Linked DNA regions of Homo sapiens: region 1 is linked to region 2. A link means that fine-mapping ties the variant in region 2 to the expression of a gene that starts in the linked region. Tissue or cell type: whole blood. Region 2 holds a variant in brackets; the other region holds the start of a gene. Each region is shown on its reference strand, or each on the opposite one.

Region 1 (9,094 bases), not on the chromosome of region 2:
TGATTTTATAAACAAATGGCTGGGCCGGGTGCAGTGGCTCACGTCTATAATCCCAGCACTTTAGGAGGCCAAGGTGGGTGGATTACCTGATGTCAGGAGTTTGAGACCAGCCTGGCCAACATAGTGAAACCCCATCTCTACTAAAATACAAGAAAATTTAGCTGGGCGTGGTGGCAGACGCCTGTAATCCCAGCTACTGGGGAGGCTGAGGCAGGACAATCACTTGAACCTGGGAGGCGGAGGTCACAGTGAGCTGAGATCACGCCATTGCACTCCAGCCTGGGCAAAAAGAGTGAAACTCTGTCTCAAAATAAATAAATCAATAAAAATAAAATAAATAAATTGCTGGACATTAAAAATTATTTTATATAAATCTTTTAATTAGAGAAAATATTACAGTGGACTTCTACAAAAGCTTTCATGGTCAAAACCCACACAAATCAGCATGATATGCTCCTCAAAAACATACACATGAAAGAATAAGCCTGTGCTGGTGAGAATGGAAAATCTTGAGGTTTCCTGAAGCCGGTAGACTTAAATCCCTAAAGCTAAGGGTATGGTTTGTTTCAGTGAACTAATAACTGTCTGGCAGCAAGGCTGAGGCTGCTTGCCACCCCCATGACACTCTGAGGCTCACTAGTTTTATATTTCCATTTCTGGACGAAGCATTATCATTTGATTTCATGGTTCTTAGTACAGGATCAGGCAGCTTGTGGGAACTCAAAACATAAAAGATGAATAGAGGAACATATTAATTATTTGGGAGAGTCTCCTGCATTTGAGGTTGTCGTAATCACAGCAGATGCTTTCTGACAATGACATGTTAGTATGCTGTGAAGACTTCAGTGGCTGCTCCAGCTTTTCCTCTTCCCAAGACTCTCTGGCTTTTAGGGCCAGTCTAGTGTAGGCAAAACTGGGTTAATCTGAGTAGAAGGCAAGTACACTTTTGGCTGAGATCCAGGTACCTTCCTCTCTCACCCAATGTGGGCCTGAACAAACTCAACCGCTGGCCTGAATCACTGATAAAGGACTAGACATATCTAGAAGTAGGAGGAACAAGTGGCCTCACAGGTCCTGGATTAATATAACGAATTGATGAGTCCAAAAAGATATAGCATTGCAAGCAAATTCTTTGTAGGACTATACTAATGACATTTGACTTAATTCTAAGTGGAGAAAAGTTTGGGCAGGCATGTAAACATATGTGAATCACATAGCTGTGTGACACCTGTGAAATTCTTAAATATTTCATATATTTTAATGTGGTCATTGGGGAAAAGCCTCACATAAACTATTGGTCAAATGGCACATGCGGATTCAGCAACTCTAAGTTTTAAACCCATTTGTTCTTTTAATACTCTGGAAAATTTTTTTAAACCGGCTTTATTGAGATAAAACTCACCATACAATTTACCTACTTAAAGTACACAATTCAGTGGTTTTTAGTATATTTACAGTATTGCAACCATCATGACAGTCAATTTTAGACCATTTGCATCACCCCAAGAAGACACACTGTACCCTTTAGTCACTCCCGTTTTCTCCCTAATCTTACCTTCTTTTTTTTTTTTTTTGAGACGGAGTCTCGCTCTGTCGCCCAGGCTGGAGTGCAGTGGCGGGATCTCGGCTCACTGCAAGCTCCGCCTCCCGGGTTCACGCCATTCTCCTGCCTCAGCCTCCCAAGTAGCTGGGACTACAGGCGCCCGCCACTACGCCCGGCTAATTTTTTGTATTTTTAGTAGAGACGGGGTTTCACCGTTTTAGCCGGGATGGTCTCGATCTCCTGACCTCGTGATCCGCCCGCCTCGGCCTCCCAAAGTGCTGGGATTACAGGCGTGAGCCACCGCGCCCGGCCCCTAATCTTACCTTCTACTGCAGCCTCAGGAAACAACTAATCTACTTTCTCTATAGATTTGCCTATTGTGGATATGTTATGTAAATAAATCATATAGTATGTGGTCTTCTTTCACTTAACGTAATCTCTTCAATGTTCATCCATGTTGTAGTATGTATCAGCCACATGATTTTCATTGCTGAATAATATTTTATCATTTCATTCCATACTACATTTTATTTATCCATTCATCATTCAATAAACAACTTGGGTTGTTTCAATCAGCTTCTTTGGGTGTTATGAGTAATGCCACTATGAACATTTGTGTACAGTTCTTGAACGGACATAAGTTTTCAATTCTCTTGAATATATGCCTAGGAGTGGAATTGCTTGATTATGTGGTAACTCTATTCTCAACTTTTTGAGGAACGATCAAACTCTCTTCTATAGCGATTGCACCATTTTCCATCCCCACCAGCAATACCAGCAATATATGACAGTTCAATTTTCTCTACATCTTCTCTAACACTTGCTATTATCTCTTTCTTTCTTTCTTTCTCTTTCTTTTTCTTCTTTCTTTCTTTTCTTTCTTTCTTTCTTTCTTTCTTTCTCTTTCTTTCTTTCTTTCTTTCTTTCTTTCTTTCTTTCTCTTTCTTTCTCTCTCTGTCTCTCTTTCTTTCCTTTTTTTTTTTTTTTTTTTTTTTTTGTGATAGCCATTCCGGTTGGTGTGAAGTGGGATTGTACTGTGGTTTTGATTTGATTTTCATTTCCCCAACCACTAATGGCTAGTAAACACCTTCTCATGTGTAAATTGGCTGTTTCTACCTGCTCTTTGGAGAAATGTCTATTCAAATTTTTTTGTCCACTTTTAAATGAGTTGTGTTCTTGTTGTTGAGTTCTTCATTTTCTGTCTTAAGAGTGGAGGATGGTTGGAGGAAGAGAGCCTCAGAACTCTCAGTTGCTCTTATCTAGAATAGAGCTCTGAAACACAAAGCTGGGGATGATGAGTAATGCTGGTGGCCTGCTTCTCTCAGGGTATACTGTAGACGAGGATCTAGGTTGAGAGGGGGCCCTGCGTTAGTGGCTGCACCCATCCTTACTGGAACATCATCACACTCAACTGGAGAGGGTGGGGAAATATATTGTGGTTCAAGCATCACAATTGTTTGCAGTTCTTACTGAAATATAAGAGATTGTCTTGAATAAATATTTTCTTCGTGCTGTATGTCCTTAGGACAATTACCAGGAACTTTAAATGGTTATTTATCTATAATTTTCACCAGTTATTGTTGTTTTTAGGGAGTGGATTTGAAAAGCTCTTCACATCACCATTCTGGAAGTGAGTCCCATTTGGATCATTTTTTATGAATATTTTGTTTCTTTTATACTTGGTGGTAAGATAGTGGCAAAACTCTCTTTATAATTAGCATAGTAGAGATAGAATTGCTGTACAATTATAAAGGGCAGTTTTTATAAAAGTATTTGCAAATTTACAGTGAATTAAGAAAACCAATGAGAGTTGAGGACTGGTTGATTTTCAACTTCAAATCGACTTTCAACTTCAAATCTAGTCGAATTCTAGAATGACCATGCTTTGTTTTGACAAATAATTTTTAATTTATTATCATTAAATAGTTGTAAATAAATATCTGGATAATGAGAGTGACAGTACATTTCATACTACAGCTTGTTGGTTTTGGTCTAGTTATCTATGTACAAAGCCTTCACAGCCCTTGAGAAAGTCACCGAAATGACCTGTTTTAAACAGCATAGGAATAATTCAGATGTGGAAATCAAGTTATTAAAAATTCAACACTTTTATGTATACATTTTAGAATTTCACTAGCAAAAATTACCATGTCTTTCTTAATTTTTGTCTAATTCAAAATAAGTACTGCACCACAAAATCTTTTTGAAAAACAATTTTCCCAACTCCCCTGATGCAGTTATTTGGACTTTGGGGCTAGTTCTTACATTTAACAATTCTTCAAACTCCTTATGTGATTGTGGACTGGGCTCATATGTGAATTGCCAACCAGTTGAATGTCACTTTAGTTGAAACAAATCTGGAGTCCAACTCATATTTAAAATGCTACTCTAAACATTTCCCCACCTTCTTCATCCCCATGGCAAAGTTAACTATTTAGCTAACTCTAGCTGGCTGTCTTTTGGTGAAGAAGTTTGGTTACTTATAAAGGATGACTTAAGTATCTTTGAGAAAATACATACTGCTTAATACTTACAAGAGAATGTTAAAATGTATTCCTTGTTGGAAATTCTTCACTTTTTGGCAGGTGACTTGTGTGTACTATTGCCTAAAGTACAGTAGTTTAAGTAGCTTATGGGCAGAGAGGGATTGTATAGGAGCACGGAACTAGGTAAAGATGAATATTTAAGAAGGAAACCAAGCACAACCCAATGATATTTTCCTGAGTCGTTAATGGACTACACGAAGGTAAATAGTGAAAATAGTAAAGAAATTTTCTCTTCTTTTAGTTTGGAAAGTTTCAGTGTTAAAGTTTGGCTTCTACTGAGTGAAACATCTTAGTTTCCCACATAGTGAAAGGTAAATGGAAAAATCCATCAATTCTGAAAATTGTAATGCAGTTAAATAATAAACTGATAAATTGCATTAAAGCTCAGTATTAATTTTTTCCTCCTATAGAGACAGGAATTCTATCCTACTAAAGCTACTTAACAGTTCAAGTAGGTATTTTGGAAGATGCTTACCTCCCAGTTGGGTGTATCTCCCTGCGGCTTAGGTGAGCGCCGAGGCTTTGGCTCCTCCCCAGCTGCTGCGAGCTTCCCACTGCGCCGGGCGCCTGGGAGCCTCCCGGAGTTAGGTGTTCGGCCCCGCCCTCAGGACTCTTGCTAAAACTCAAATTCTACCTGGCTAATTCCGGTGATTAATTATTGACAAAAGGAAAACACTCCTACGCAAACTTGTGTCCAACCGCACTGCTCCCAGCGACTCCTTCCAGAAGAGAATGCCTGCTGCAACACTCCCCTCCCCCCCTTGCTCTATGGTCCCAACTTCTCATACGCTGCCACTCTTAGTCCTGGGCGATCAGACTGGTCCTCGGAGGAATGCAGCCCAACGACTTCTACATTTTAAAATCTGGTTTTCTGCAGCTCGTTCGCAGTTCTCCAGGGACCAGCCTCTCGAGAGGGGGCGCTTTCCCGGTGCAGGGGAAGCCGGGGCTCCGAGAGCAACAGAGGCGGCTGAGGCGTCGCTGTCACCTCCGGCTGCTGCAGTAAAACCCCGAGCCGAGGCGGGGACGGGGAGGAGGGGATAGGGAGGCGCCCTCCCCCGCTCTGGGGCTGGGATCCCCGACTCTACTGAAGGGGCACGTCCTTTGGCGGTGGTAGAGGGGCGGGCGGATAAACAGGAGGTAGAAGGTGGGAGCTCTGGGGCTTTAGCCTAAGCTGCGTTAAAGCGCTCAGGGAAAGCCCGCGCCCAGCATCCATCGGGCTGCAGACTTTGGCAAGGGGGCGAAGAAGCCCGGGTGTAAGCGCAGCAGGACTGCGTCTGAAACTCGGCATCAGGCTGCTAAGTGAGCCCAGGGCTCGGGCTGGGGCAGCGGGCGGCCAAGCAAGCATCCCACCCCATTTATTTGTCAAAAACCGAAGAAAGCAAAGCCTTTTAGCACTGGCAGCTAATTTTGGTGCCTCTGAACGTGTGAAACGCCCCTCCCCGCCCCACTCGCATCCTGCCACCTTGCCCGCGGTAGCTAGGAGGTTAATCGTTAAAAAGGTGGACTCCCCCAGGGAAATAGATGAAAGGATCGTGCCCGGAGAACTTGTGTGTGCCCACTCACAAGTGCAGAGAATTAATCTCGGCCCGGACTGCGGCAGGAGGGCAAACTGGGGAAAGAAGGCTGGGAGGCGGCCCGGTGGTGCAGAGACGCGCGGCGCCTGCTCCCGCGGCTCCCGGGGCTGGCGTGCCCTGCGCTTACGCTCCGCGCTCGAATATCTTCCCCGGAGGGCTCGGGACCAGCGCGAGCACCTTCCCTGGAAGCCCACATCCATCACCCAGCGATCTCCTCTCCATCGAGAGCAGGGCTTGCTGAGAGTGGCGGAGGACCTTGAAGGCTCCCGGTTCTGTATCTCCGTGGCCGAGACGCTTTCTGCTCGAGGCCCAGGGGAGTCCGGGAGCGAAAGCCTCTTTTGATGAATGAGCATTTGGGCAGTATCTGCCCATCAGCCCCCACTGCCGAAGGAGGAGACACTGCACATGCTCGGCCAGGGCTGATTGTGTTAAAGCGCGAATTTTAGCTGCTGGCAGGTCTCTGCTCATCCTCACAACGCGCTTTCAGCGGGTTCCACACTGCCAGGGCTATTACGAAGAGGGAGGCTCACGTTATTGGGCGGTGGTGTCTCCATGCAGGAGGGAGGATGTCCCCAGAGGAAGCTAAAGGTAGATGGGGGCAGGGAAGGGAACCAATAGAAACAGAGCACCTGCTTGGGCCCGTGTTAGCCATTTTACGTAGTTATCATTTCCTTCTGCTCCCGTGTCTAAATAGCAGCAACCACTGCTAGTGTTATTTATTTCTTTATCACTTTATGTTGGTCACATTCCTTATCTTTTGGCTTCTCGCGACACACCTTGCAATATTGGCAGGGTAGATATGACCACTCAGGGCATGTAGATCAGGAAATAGAAACCCTAAGAAAGGACTTGGCGGGGACTACCAAGGCCATGTTGGTGAGGCCAATTCTATTTACACTGGTAAATCTTATTTTTCATTATCTATTTACCCCCACTTAGTTGTGACACTCCACCCTCCATACTGTGATTGCACATTTGTGGAAATATAGAAATAGACCTTCTTGGCAAAGGTTTGTGAAATGGATATGAGACCTTGCAACTACTCCAACTGGAGGTTGGGGGAAACTGGCACAGCTGGCAGATGTATTCAGACCATTAAAAATAATCTTAAATAACATACACGTATTATAACCACACACAGGAACATCTTTATGAATATCTTAGCACCTCCAAACGGAGAATACATATTAACATGTTTTCCATACAACTATAGAACATTCTCGAAACTTAACTAGATCACAAACTATAGGTCAACACTTTTATTTTTATTTTTATTTTGGAGACAGGGTCTCACTCTGTCGCCCAGGTTGGAGCGGAGAGGCACAGTCACAGCTCACTGCAGTCTCAGCCTCCTGGGCTCAAGTGATCCTCCCGCCTCAGCCTCCTGTGTAGGTGAGACTACAGGCACGTGCCAGTACACCCAGCTATTTTTTAAATTCCTTAGAGAAGGGGTCTCATTTTGATGTCCAGGCTTAGGTCAACACATTTTAAAAGGCAGAAGTCATACAGACCACATCATCCATCAAAATACAATAAGGATAAAATTAACAACAAACATTTACCCTGATTGATATACTATTGGAAATTTAAAGATGCTTTGAATCTGTATTAAAAAGCACAAATGGGAAAATTACAAACTCTTTAGGAACAGAAGAAAAACAAAAACCCTACATAACAAAATTGAGAGAATACAGAAAAGCCAAACAATCTATGAAATTACACACTAAGTGTCTTTATTGCAAAACAATGTACAAGGAGACTTAGAAAAAATTGTGAAAGAATTATGTTAACTAATAAAGATAACAGCAGAAAATAATAAAGTAGGAAAGTAAAAAACAAAAACAAAAATGAAAAAGGAGACTTGATCAAGAAAAGAAAAAAATATTCTCTGGAAAGATCAAGAAATAAATCTAGAAAAGATCAGGAAGCAGAGAAGATACAGATAACATTAGGAAAGAAAGGTGGCATACAACCACAGATAAGGAAGATATTAAAAAATTTAAAAAGCACCTCAATTGATATTTTTTTGTGCATGAGATGGCATCTTCTTTTGTTCTGATTACTGGAACTTGTGAGATAATAATTAGTTAGCACTACAGCTTGTGCAGAGGTGAATGAAATTTGAAGAACCAGGCAGAATTGTTAAGAATATAATAGTGTAAGAACATAAAGTAATGATAATTGTATCAACTGATCATTTTGAACCAGGCCTTTCATCATCAGTATCCTAAAGTTTCTATCGCATAACTAAAAAACACACTGCTGGAGTAGAAAACTTTCAAAAGTAATCATCACTAGTGTGTATTCCCCTAGGTAACCTGAGATGTTTGGAGACAGATATTATTGGGAAAGGAATGGGTCCACTTTGTAAAACTGTGTTTAGGTTTTTTTGGGATGTCTCTGGAGTCTACAATATCAGGAAGAAGAAAGGAGTTGATGGGAGAATCCACTTAAAATGACCCATAGTCAGCTACCCAATCTTTCATGCATTTGCTGAGAGTAATCTTACTTTTAGCAGATGAAAATTCAAGGATAAAATGTGAGTTTTTCTAAAGCTTCCAAACCTGACCATGGTGAAAAGAATATGGACTTTGAAGAAAAACAGCTCTGGATTCAAGTCCTAGCTCTTTCTACTAATCAGTTCTGTAGTCTGAGACAATTAGCTGTATCAGTATACTTGGTTTTCCCAATTATAAAGTAGGAATAATATTGACTTCATAGGGTTCTTTTGAAAATTAAATGAAATGTCATTTACAAAGTACTCATCATATGGTTCCTGCTGAACCCCGAACCCCATTCTGCCTTTCTTTATTGCCATCTTTTAGTAACTTCTCTTCTGGCTATTCACATTCCTTCCATTTTGTCACTGGGATGTTACCCCTTCTTCCCTTCCTTTCAGTAAACCATGCGCCTACTCCATGACTTACCAGCAATCAGAGAAATCCAAGTATCATTACTGAGTACCCTTGGGTTGCTTTGGAAAGATCCTCTTAAATCTAAAAATAACTTAGCCCCTTTTCTACAAGGTGTAAATGGCAAAAATGAGGCCTGCTTCTTCTTTCTTTCCTTCCTTCCTGCCTGCTCCCCCCTTTATTTTTGCTTACCACATTTTTTTTGAGTTCCTATGAAACTATGCATGAGCTACATTCCCCAACTCACTGATTCCTGTTTAACAAGTATGCATACGCTTAGACTGAAGTCTTTCACTGGGGAAAGACCCTAATCTTGAAACACTTGTAAAATTTAATGTTAGAATAAAGACCATATTATTAATGATCAGTAATGACAATCAGTAGTTTATTCTAAAAATTGGAAAAACAGCATTCCATTAAGGGACTTAATGTTGATGTCCCCATTAATCACTAACAAAAATAAGAGATTTATCAGAATAGGCACAAGTTTTTCCCTTAAAAAGCCTGTCCCCATCTACC
Region 2 (9,094 bases):
TCTAAGGACACACAGCTGGAAGTGGCAGAGGGAAGATTTAAAGTCAGGTCTGTCTGATGCCAAACCTGTGTTGAGACTACTCCCCATGCTGGCCCTGGAGAAGGGTGGTATATTAGTTCTTTCTCATGCTGCTAATAAAGACATACCCAAGACTGGGTAATTTATGAAGGAAAGAGGTTTAATTGACTCACAGTTCTGCAGGGTTGGGGAGGCCTCAAGAAACTTACAATCATGGCAGAAAGGGAAGCAAACACGTCCTTCTTCACATGGTGGCAGGAAGGAAAAGTGCCGAGCAAAAGGGGGAAATGCCCTGTATAAAACCATCAGATCTCATGAGAACTCACTATCATGAGAACAGTATGGAGGGTAACCACCCCCATGATTCATTTACCTCCCACTGTGTCCCCTCCCGTGACATGCGGAGATTATGGGAGCTACAATTCAAGATGAGATTTGAGTGGGGATACAACCAAACCATATCAGGTGGGATCCTGGCCAACCTGAGGAGACAGGGAGGGAGTGCATGGCCCAAGATGGAACCCTGCATGAATGAGAGTCAGGAGCCATCAGGGTGGTTTGCACGGGGAAGAGGGGCTAGGCCTGGTGTGGTGAGGAGGAATGCAGGCCATAGGCATAGGGCTCCAGCAGGGCCAGGCTCAGAGTGGTGGCAGCAGTGGGCATGGAGGCTGGGAAAGAGCGAGAAGTTCTCCAGAAATCAAAGTGGCAGCACTACTGTGGGAAAGTGGTGCATCCAAGGGACATCATCGTACAAGAGTCAGCAGGCATGGGGTCCTGAGGGAGAAATCAAAGAATCAGGCTCAGTGGCCTGGTGGCTGGAGGATGATAGTCCCACAGAAATGGGAAAAAGTTGGAAAGGGCTGGCTTGGTATGGAAGTTGACTGGTTTGGATTGGATGTACAGAGTTCAAGGTAACTTGAAGTGGGTGCTATGTCTATGATAACGAAAAGTATCATAGTGGAGTCCAGTGCACAGGCAGTGAGAAGTATGAACACAGGGTCACCACAGAGAGGAGAGAGCTGTCAGTGAGAATCCAGTAGCTCTCTAAGGAAGCAAGTGTTTCAATTTCCCTGACCTGCACTAAGTAAGATTCTAAGTTACAGCATAAACCTTTACCAAATAAAATAGCCACCTTAAAAAGGTGATCTAAAGAAAACCTAGCACCTGAATTTGTAGATTATTCTTTAGCCATCCTCAGACAGTAGTCAGAGATCAATATGTTATCACACCAAATCAGATCACAGCAAAAGTCCAAAACTGAGGACGGAGTTGAGGGAGAGAGGTCTTGCCTCCAGGGTCTTTCCCAGGCAGGTGTATTCTGAATGAGTGACAGCAAAAGCATTCGTGTAAACTTAACACAGCTTGGGCCCTTATCTCAATGTACAAGTTTCTGCTGAGCCACTTTTATAGGCAAAGTTAATTTTTAAAAAAGATTAAATTGATGATTCTATGTAATTAACACTGGTTTCTGCCAATTGAAGACTGGGTGGGTATATGCATTGGAGAGCATGTGGAAGGCAACATTGATCTCTCTATGGATCCCAAGTATGTCTTGACTGGATAGAGCAAAATTTAAACTTGGAAGAAATAATCAGCACCAGATACAACTGATAGCAGTCAAGATGGCATGGAGTAATTTAGTCAGAGATGAAAGCAGTCTAAGGAATTCTATTTTAGAGTAACATTGAAAACTACAAACAACCTACCCAGACAATATTTTCTTGATGAAAATTCATCATTGCTGATATAGTTCTCTTTAAAATATCTGTATTTGTAGACATGACATCCAGGCATGCTTGAGGTCAAATCATTGGAATCAGACTGTCCCTCAGCCTTGAGGCTGAGTTTAGCTCTGCCCACCTTTGTGGGATCTGCGGGAGTTGGGATGGGACCAGAGGGCAATCAATGTCTTTATTGGCTGGATGGGTGGGCTTGGGATGTTCAGTTGGAGGACTGAGTTTTGCTCTACTCAAAGACAAGAGGCAGAACTCTTCCCAGCAGAGAGCAATGAAAGGTCATAGAGGGTAAAGAGTGAACGCAGCTTTGAGTATAGCAATCAAAGGCTAAACTAGTTGGGTTAACTTAGTAAAAGCCTTAATGCGTGTCAAATAAGTGGTTTTAAATCTGAGGGTGGCAGAGAATTGTGGGAGCATTTTCAAGCATGAAACAATGTAGTCAACACAGCCTACAGGAGGGCAGTCTGTGACTTACACCAAAATAAAAATTGGTCACCACATAAGTGAGCCTTTGATGAGAACCTGGCCATAAATATGAGAAGGGGAATGTAATTTTGTAAATTTTCTAGATTAATATTCCTAGAGCTTTCATGGCCAATTTCAATGGATTACTAAAACTTTTTTTTTTTCTCGTAAATCTTCTTGGGTTTCTCTTCCCTATTCTCCTTGAGAAGGTTGGTTGGAGAAAGACGACTTTATATATTTGGGGGAGTTTGTGGGGTTTGAGTCAACACTTGGGGCCATACACCAAGAGAAGAGTTAAAGCCATGGAAATCATGATGGAAGATTGAGATTTTTTAAATTAGCACTGTCAAATTTACAAAGGCAGGTGGAGTCTTCTCAATGAAGGTCCCAGGAAATGGAGATAGAGTGTCATCTCTGGGGACAAGATGACCCAAAAGGAAGCTGAACCCAGGACCTCCTGGCAGTTTAGGGAGGAGCTTTGCTGATGGGAATGGCCTTGTACTCTACTGTAATGACTCTGTCTGATGGGGTGGAGAAGTCACTGTACGGGGGCCCCTGACCCATGCAGGGGACAGTTGGGGAGCTCTGCCATGTCACCAAGGAAGGACGGACAGCATGCTGTTTACGTCTGTTATAACCACAGTGTCCTCCTTCACATCAGAAGGGCTCTGAGGCGGAAGTGAAGTCATTCACAATTTCCATTTCTTCCCTTCCAGTTACCTTAGAGCAGTTCTCCCTAGCAGTGAAGAGCTGTCCTGACCAAGAGGACCAGACTTTGTTAATGAAGGTAGGTTATCAGATAAAGAACTTATTTCCTAAAGGCTCAGAGCGTTTTTATTGCCCTGAGGAGAGTTTCATTTTTACAAGCGGGAGTAAATTTATCATGTCTGAATCGTGTGCTCCAGGGGGATAAGCTTGTCATAGGCGAATTGGAGGGTTGCTGGTTAACGAGCACCACTGCTGCCTGCGGAGTGCGGGAAAGTGACAGGAGAGTGGGTGTCCACATGAGTGGGGAATCTGTTTAACTCTCCAGAGGGCTCAGTTGGTTCTATTTAAACTTATCTGATGGAGTCTTGATGCTTTTTTAGCAGATTTATGAGGCTTGGCCAAATTCCACATCTCCCACTATATTTTTAATTAAGACAAAGGATTCCATACGTTCCCAGTCTGCTGCTTCCTACTTTTGGCACCTTAAGGAATGCTACACAAATTAGACTGTTCATATTCACCACCAGAATGAGCATCTTATGTCATAGATTCCTTGCCCTTGAGTGGAAGACAAGCTTCTTCCCCCCAACCCCCCGCCCCAAGGAACAGTTGTTTTATTTCCTTCCAAGTGACAGGAGCAGAGGCATTTCCAAATGGTATAACCTGCACTTAGGCTGCCTACCTAGGTGAGCCAAAAGTGTGGAAAACCCTGGCAAGCTGCCCACCTGGATTTAATTAAAACTTTGTCTTTGAAGCAGAGAGCAGTAAACAGCAGCAGATCACAAAGGTGCACACACATACTTTCCCACCACTAAGACTCATGCTTTCACACAGAAACCTTGCAGACTGACCTTGAGGTACAAATATTTCCATGATGTCACTTCAGTGCT[G/A]TACCACCAGGAAACCGCGTGCACCAGGAATTGCATTTCTTTATCTAAAAACCAGCTTCTTTACCAGGTGTCCTCTGACTTTAGAAATGGGTGGAAAAAAAATAGGGTGTCACTCTGAGGGATTTTCAACTCATTTGCCTAAGATGTGATATTTTTGGTCTTTAAAAAAAAAAAAGCTTTCAGTGATGTTAGTTTTATAATAAAGAAGCGCTGCTCATACCAAGTGTTGGGTTTGTCTGGGAACCCTGATTTTTCAGAGTCCTGGGCGTCTGATACACTGACTTAGAATGATATAGATTCAGGCACATGGGCGTTTCTTGTTTGCCACGCTTAATTCTCTGTTTCCTGCTTTAAGTTCTATTCTGCAAGGACCTTTCCTTCCAGGTGCAGGCTGGCTTTCCATGACCTTGAAGCAGCTCTTGGGCCCTGGATGCTCACCTCTTTTCTCTGCTCACCGGCCTTTGGTCTTTCTTCCCTCTATCCTGTGTTTTCTCCTACCATTTGCTTCTTGCTTCTCTCTTGTTCTTCTCCTACTGTCCATCTCTCCCCATTTGCAGGAGGTGAAGCTCCTGGGCTCCCCTGGAGGTTACATGGGCATCTCAGAGGCATTTTGGGGTACAGAGGGCAGCGACAGAGCCCAGCCCCAGAGACCACACCTCCAGGCCTGCTTCTAGTGGTCCTCATGGCCTCCCCGACTTGGGATGCCGCAGCCCCCTCTGAGTTTCTTCACATCTAGAGTGAGAGGTGAAAAGAGATGTAACCAAAGGCCCCTCCTCCTCTCACCATTTCACCTTCTTGCTGACTTTCATGGTGCTCTGGCTGGCTTCTCTAGCACATTCGGTTAGAAACTAACAGATTGGGGTTGGGAGAGGAAGGCTAAGATGGCCTGAGGTTTCCTGGAATTTGCGTGACCTCCAGTGGCGTTCAGTATTTTGTGTCTTACCTGTTGGTTTCTGCAGACTGTGTGGCCTCAGCAACAGAGGATGATTTATGTGGGCGTTTTCTCAATATTTGCAAATATTTGAACAGGCATCATCAAAGAAAGAAGTTTCACTGAACAAAAACGTGTGCCGAGTTCATATATACTGAAACTATTTTATGATTTTTTTTAGGAGATTGAGGTTTTCTAATGTCACATATCAGAAGGCACCATGTGGGTGTGACAATGGTATGCTGGGTTTTTGTAGATGTTATGTGAGAAAACCTATTCAGGGTGACAGTAGATTATTTTGACTACAGTCAGCCTGCAGGTGATTGTATGTTTGCTCTAGTGAGCTATCCACTTTGCAGACTGTCTGAAATAAATTCCCACATTTAACTTAACCTCATGAAAACTTGTTGGAGGCAAAAAACGTAGATCTGGGCCAAATATGATATATATTTTTTTGAGACAGAGTCTTCTTCTGTCACCCAGGCTGGAGTGCAGTGGCGTGATCTTAGCTCACTGCAACTTCCACCTCCTGGGTTCAAGGAATTCTCCTGTCTCAGCCTCCCCACTAGTTGGGAGTACAGGTGTCTGCCACCATGCCTGGCTAATTTTTTGTATTTTTAGTAGAGATGGGGTTTCACCATATTGGTCAGGCTGGTCTTGAACTCCTGACCTCAGGTGATCCACCCGCCTCGGCCTCCCAAAGTGCTGGGATTACAGACATACGCCACTGCGCCCAGCTGATATTTTTTAAAATTATATTTTGCATGCATTCCTGCATTGTCAAACATTCCAATGTTGCATTCTACATTGTCAAGGGTAATTGAGATCTGAGCACAAATATTTAAAGGGGTACCATTAAAAATGCAGCTTGTATGGCAGGCATGGTCCATGATTGTCCCAGGCAGCCTAATTTTGACTCAAGTCAAAAGCCCCTCCCTCAATCACATAGCTCCACCTTGCCTAACCTGAGAAGATGCTCTATAGACAGACTGCCAAGAAGATGCAAGAGATGAACTTGGTTCATCAGATGGCTGAACCAAGGTCAGATTCCCCTGCAAAGACAAAAACATTGAGATTTTGAAGATGGCATAAGCCAGAACATTCATCTGACAACCAGGAAAAGCAGGAGGGACAGGAAAACAAGTGACTAGCCACCATTGCATAGCTAGTCAGCCGGCAATAGAACTAGGACCAGAAAGCTGGGCTTCTTCCTGCGGGGCCCACTCAGATGAGCAAATTCATAGAAAATTCCACCACTCCACCCCTTCAGCACCATGAGAGCACACACGGGAGGTGTGACTGCAGTGGAACCATGAGGGGTACTGTGGTGGCAGGCTTCTGGAGTCACTCTCAAGGCTTGTTAATCACATCCTTGTTGCTGGGGGTCCTGTAAGACAGGAGAAAGCCAGCTTCTCTGTGACTCAGTTTCCCATCTACCAAGCAGAGGTGGAAGCTGTTACTGGCTTAAGTAACAGACCCTGCAGACCCGAGAAGGGGGCTAGGGAAACGGTACCCAAGGGTAAGATAGCTGTTATCAGGAGTTGCCTCTCAGATTTCACTACAATTTGAACCATAGAACAATATTTAGATTCCATAAATTACTCATTTGACCCTGTTCGCGTTTGATCTCCATACCTACCTGTTTCTTCACTGATTCTTAGTCCTATTTGCCAATTAATCTCTTTGGTCCCTCTCGGTCACTACCTTGGAGAGCCCATTTGCCCTTGGCTCCACCTGCACTCGCCTGTGACTCCAGGTGTCACCTGAGCTCACGTCCAAGCAAGCTCAGCAAGTCTAAACCCCACCAGTTTCTGTCCTCCCACCCCCCCAATCTAGGAACTGTGGGGTAGTCTGTGGCACTTCCCTGTCCCGGAGCTGCCATGGAAGTTTCCATGTGTCTGTTCATCCTCTGCAGCCTCTTTCAGGGTCCTCCATCTCCCTCTGTCCCAGCAAAGAGTACCTGGACCTGACCCCTTAAGGACAAGTTTCTATCCCCACTCTGCCAGCAACTGGAGTGTAACCTTGAGCAGGTCACTTTTATCTCTTTTAGCCTAACGTCCTCTTCCAGTAAAAGAGGAGGTAAATTAGACCACCCCAAAGACCCTTCCAGCATCACACTCTGCAAAGTCATAAGTGAAAATTATCGACAAGGCTGCAATTCTAAATATGCTTGAGAATGAACCAACCTGGCCTTCTACCACTCGTCTCTCTCCTCCAGGCGCTGCCAAGTGAACTTGCTTGGAGCCCCACGTCCTACATGTCACTCTGTGGATGCATTTCTAGCCTAACTCCTTCTCATCTTTGGAATAGGGTAATCACAAAACTTATCATCCAAACATGGATTTTGTGTGTGTGTGTGAGTGAAAGGGGCACCATTAAAAATAGAACTTGGATGGCAGGCATAGTCCATGACTGTCCCAGGCAAACCAGGGCATTGGGTCAGCCTAGATTTGAATCAAGGCCAAAGCCTCTCCCTCAATCACATGGTTTGACTTTGCCTAGCAGGCCTCTTTCTCAGTGCTTGGTCCAGACCCTCCCTGTCCCCACTCCCACTAGGATTGTCCCCTCTTAAAAATCAGAGCCTCTGTTTAGGGTGGAAGTTGGCAGGAAGACAGATCTCCTGGTGACAGTCTGCACTCGCACCATCATTTACTGAATGTAAATGATCACACCTCCTCATTTTGTTCTTGCACACCTGGGAGTTTCTTACATATCTGGCAGCAGCTGCCTCCAATTTGGGTGGGAGATAGCCCCAGCCAGGGGCCTCCATGGGACTAAAACTTCCTGAAGCCATCGCCTGCAGAGCCTCCCTGCCTCCCTCGGATAAGCTGGAAAATATTTAAATAGAATGGTCAGAGGAAAGTGGCCCTTGCTGGTAAATGCTTCTGACCAGGTCAGGAGACAAGAGCTAGTATTGAAGGAGCTTTGGCTGATGGGTTATACCTGGAACAAGACAGTAGAACAAGGGTTGGCTCAGAGCAAGCCTTCCCTGCTCTAGTGATGTTGAGTGAGTGCCTGGAACATTCCCCATGCTACAGTCCCAGCTATGGCCTGGCTCGGTCACCTTGCCAAAGGTACCTGGCTAGAAGCACCATGGGAGGCTCAAGGCAGGCCTGTCTATAGGTGGATCTGATATCTACCACATTTATGGCAGCACACAGTAGAAAAACCAAGCTGCCTGTAGGAAAATAAAGCTTGGCTTATTTATAGCACTGCCTTGAATCTCTGCTCCTAAGTTGCAACCTTTGGCAGGGCTGTCACGCACCAGCAGCAACCATGCTCCCTCTTGTTCTAGGTGGAGGGCTGGCTGAGGTGGGCAGGCTGCTGGTGGTGCAACAGATGATACCTTGATCTAAGCAGACATGTAGAACAGTATTCATAGCTGCTGTCTACCCAGTGGGACATGCAGGGGCCCATCAGGGTCGGTGGGTACAGCTGCCAAGAGCTGCAGCCCAGGTTGAGCAAGCCTGCAGAGACAGCTCCCCAGGAAGGCTCCACTGATGGGAGGTGTGGGGGCTGAATGCTGCTGGAAGCTTCCTTAGGATTTCTTACCAGCCAAGTATGAATGCTGCCCCCAAATGCACAGAGACGCCTGGGAGCGTGTGGAAGGAGGGACGCCAGGCCTCCCTCCACGTCCCCTGCCACCATGGTCTGGCCAGATGCAACCCTTTCTCTGTCTAATTACATTTTAAGAAGTCAGACACATTTGAATCCTCCTGGCAACCAAAAATCTCCAAGAGATCGACATGACTCAACCCTTCAGTCCTCCATGCTTACTGAATACAACTTCTTCCCAGGCGAAGGCATTTTCCCCTAGCCTGATGGAATCCTGTCCAGAATGAGGGTTTTCACAAGAAAAACAATGCCTTTCCCTCAGCTTGGGAATGACTGTGCATGGAGGAGAAAGGGAATTTTCCACATGACTGCTCCACTGCTTCACCTCCCCACAGAAGGTTTAGAAGCACCTCAGCAAGCTGGTTGTCTAATGTTTCTTAAATTGTCATTGTCATAAAGATTCTTTCTGCTTCACTTCTTCCAAAGTTCTCCTCCTCACCCACCCCCAACCTTGGTCCAAGGCATAGTAATTGAGCCATTCAGTATCCAGCATGGGGACTGGTCCTGCAGGACCAGGCAGGTGCCTTTGTCTGCCTTTGTGCTCAGAGAAGGCCTTCACGCCTTTGGTTCTCGTAAGGTGCTCGCCACGGCAACCCAAGTGTCTAAGCAGGGCATTTGCAGGGGACTGTCCCCACCTCACAGGCGGCTAGCAGCAGCAGTTTGAGCCTGTCAAGTGGGTGAGGTGGGGTTTTTCCCTCTTTCCTGCATTCTAACTGCTTTTTCTTCCTTTT

Evidence for each region. PIP is the estimated chance that this variant, and not a neighbour inherited with it, causes the effect. A credible set is the group of variants that fine-mapping cannot tell apart.
Region 1: it holds the start of SPTSSB, and the variant in region 2 is the best candidate, but not a certain one, in a credible set for the expression of SPTSSB in whole blood (TOPMed, PIP 0.70).

What each region holds. Positions count from the first base shown.
Region 1 is chr3:161,366,871-161,375,964 of GRCh38, forward strand. SPTSSB (serine palmitoyltransferase small subunit B) reads right to left here and starts at 4,647. Exons shown (of 3, transcript NM_001040100.2): 1 at 4,565-4,647. RefSeq lists enhancers at 4,120-4,674, 4,675-5,229.
Region 2 is chr2:111,046,283-111,055,376 of GRCh38, forward strand. ACOXL (acyl-CoA oxidase like) reads left to right here. Exons shown (of 18, transcript NM_001142807.4): 16 at 2,936-3,006. LOC124907866 (a long non-coding RNA gene) reads right to left here and starts at 3,895. Exons shown (of 2, transcript XR_007087182.1): 1 at 3,779-3,895. RefSeq lists an enhancer at 3,570-3,864 and a silencer at 3,570-3,864. The variant G/A (reference allele first, on the strand shown) is at 3,818.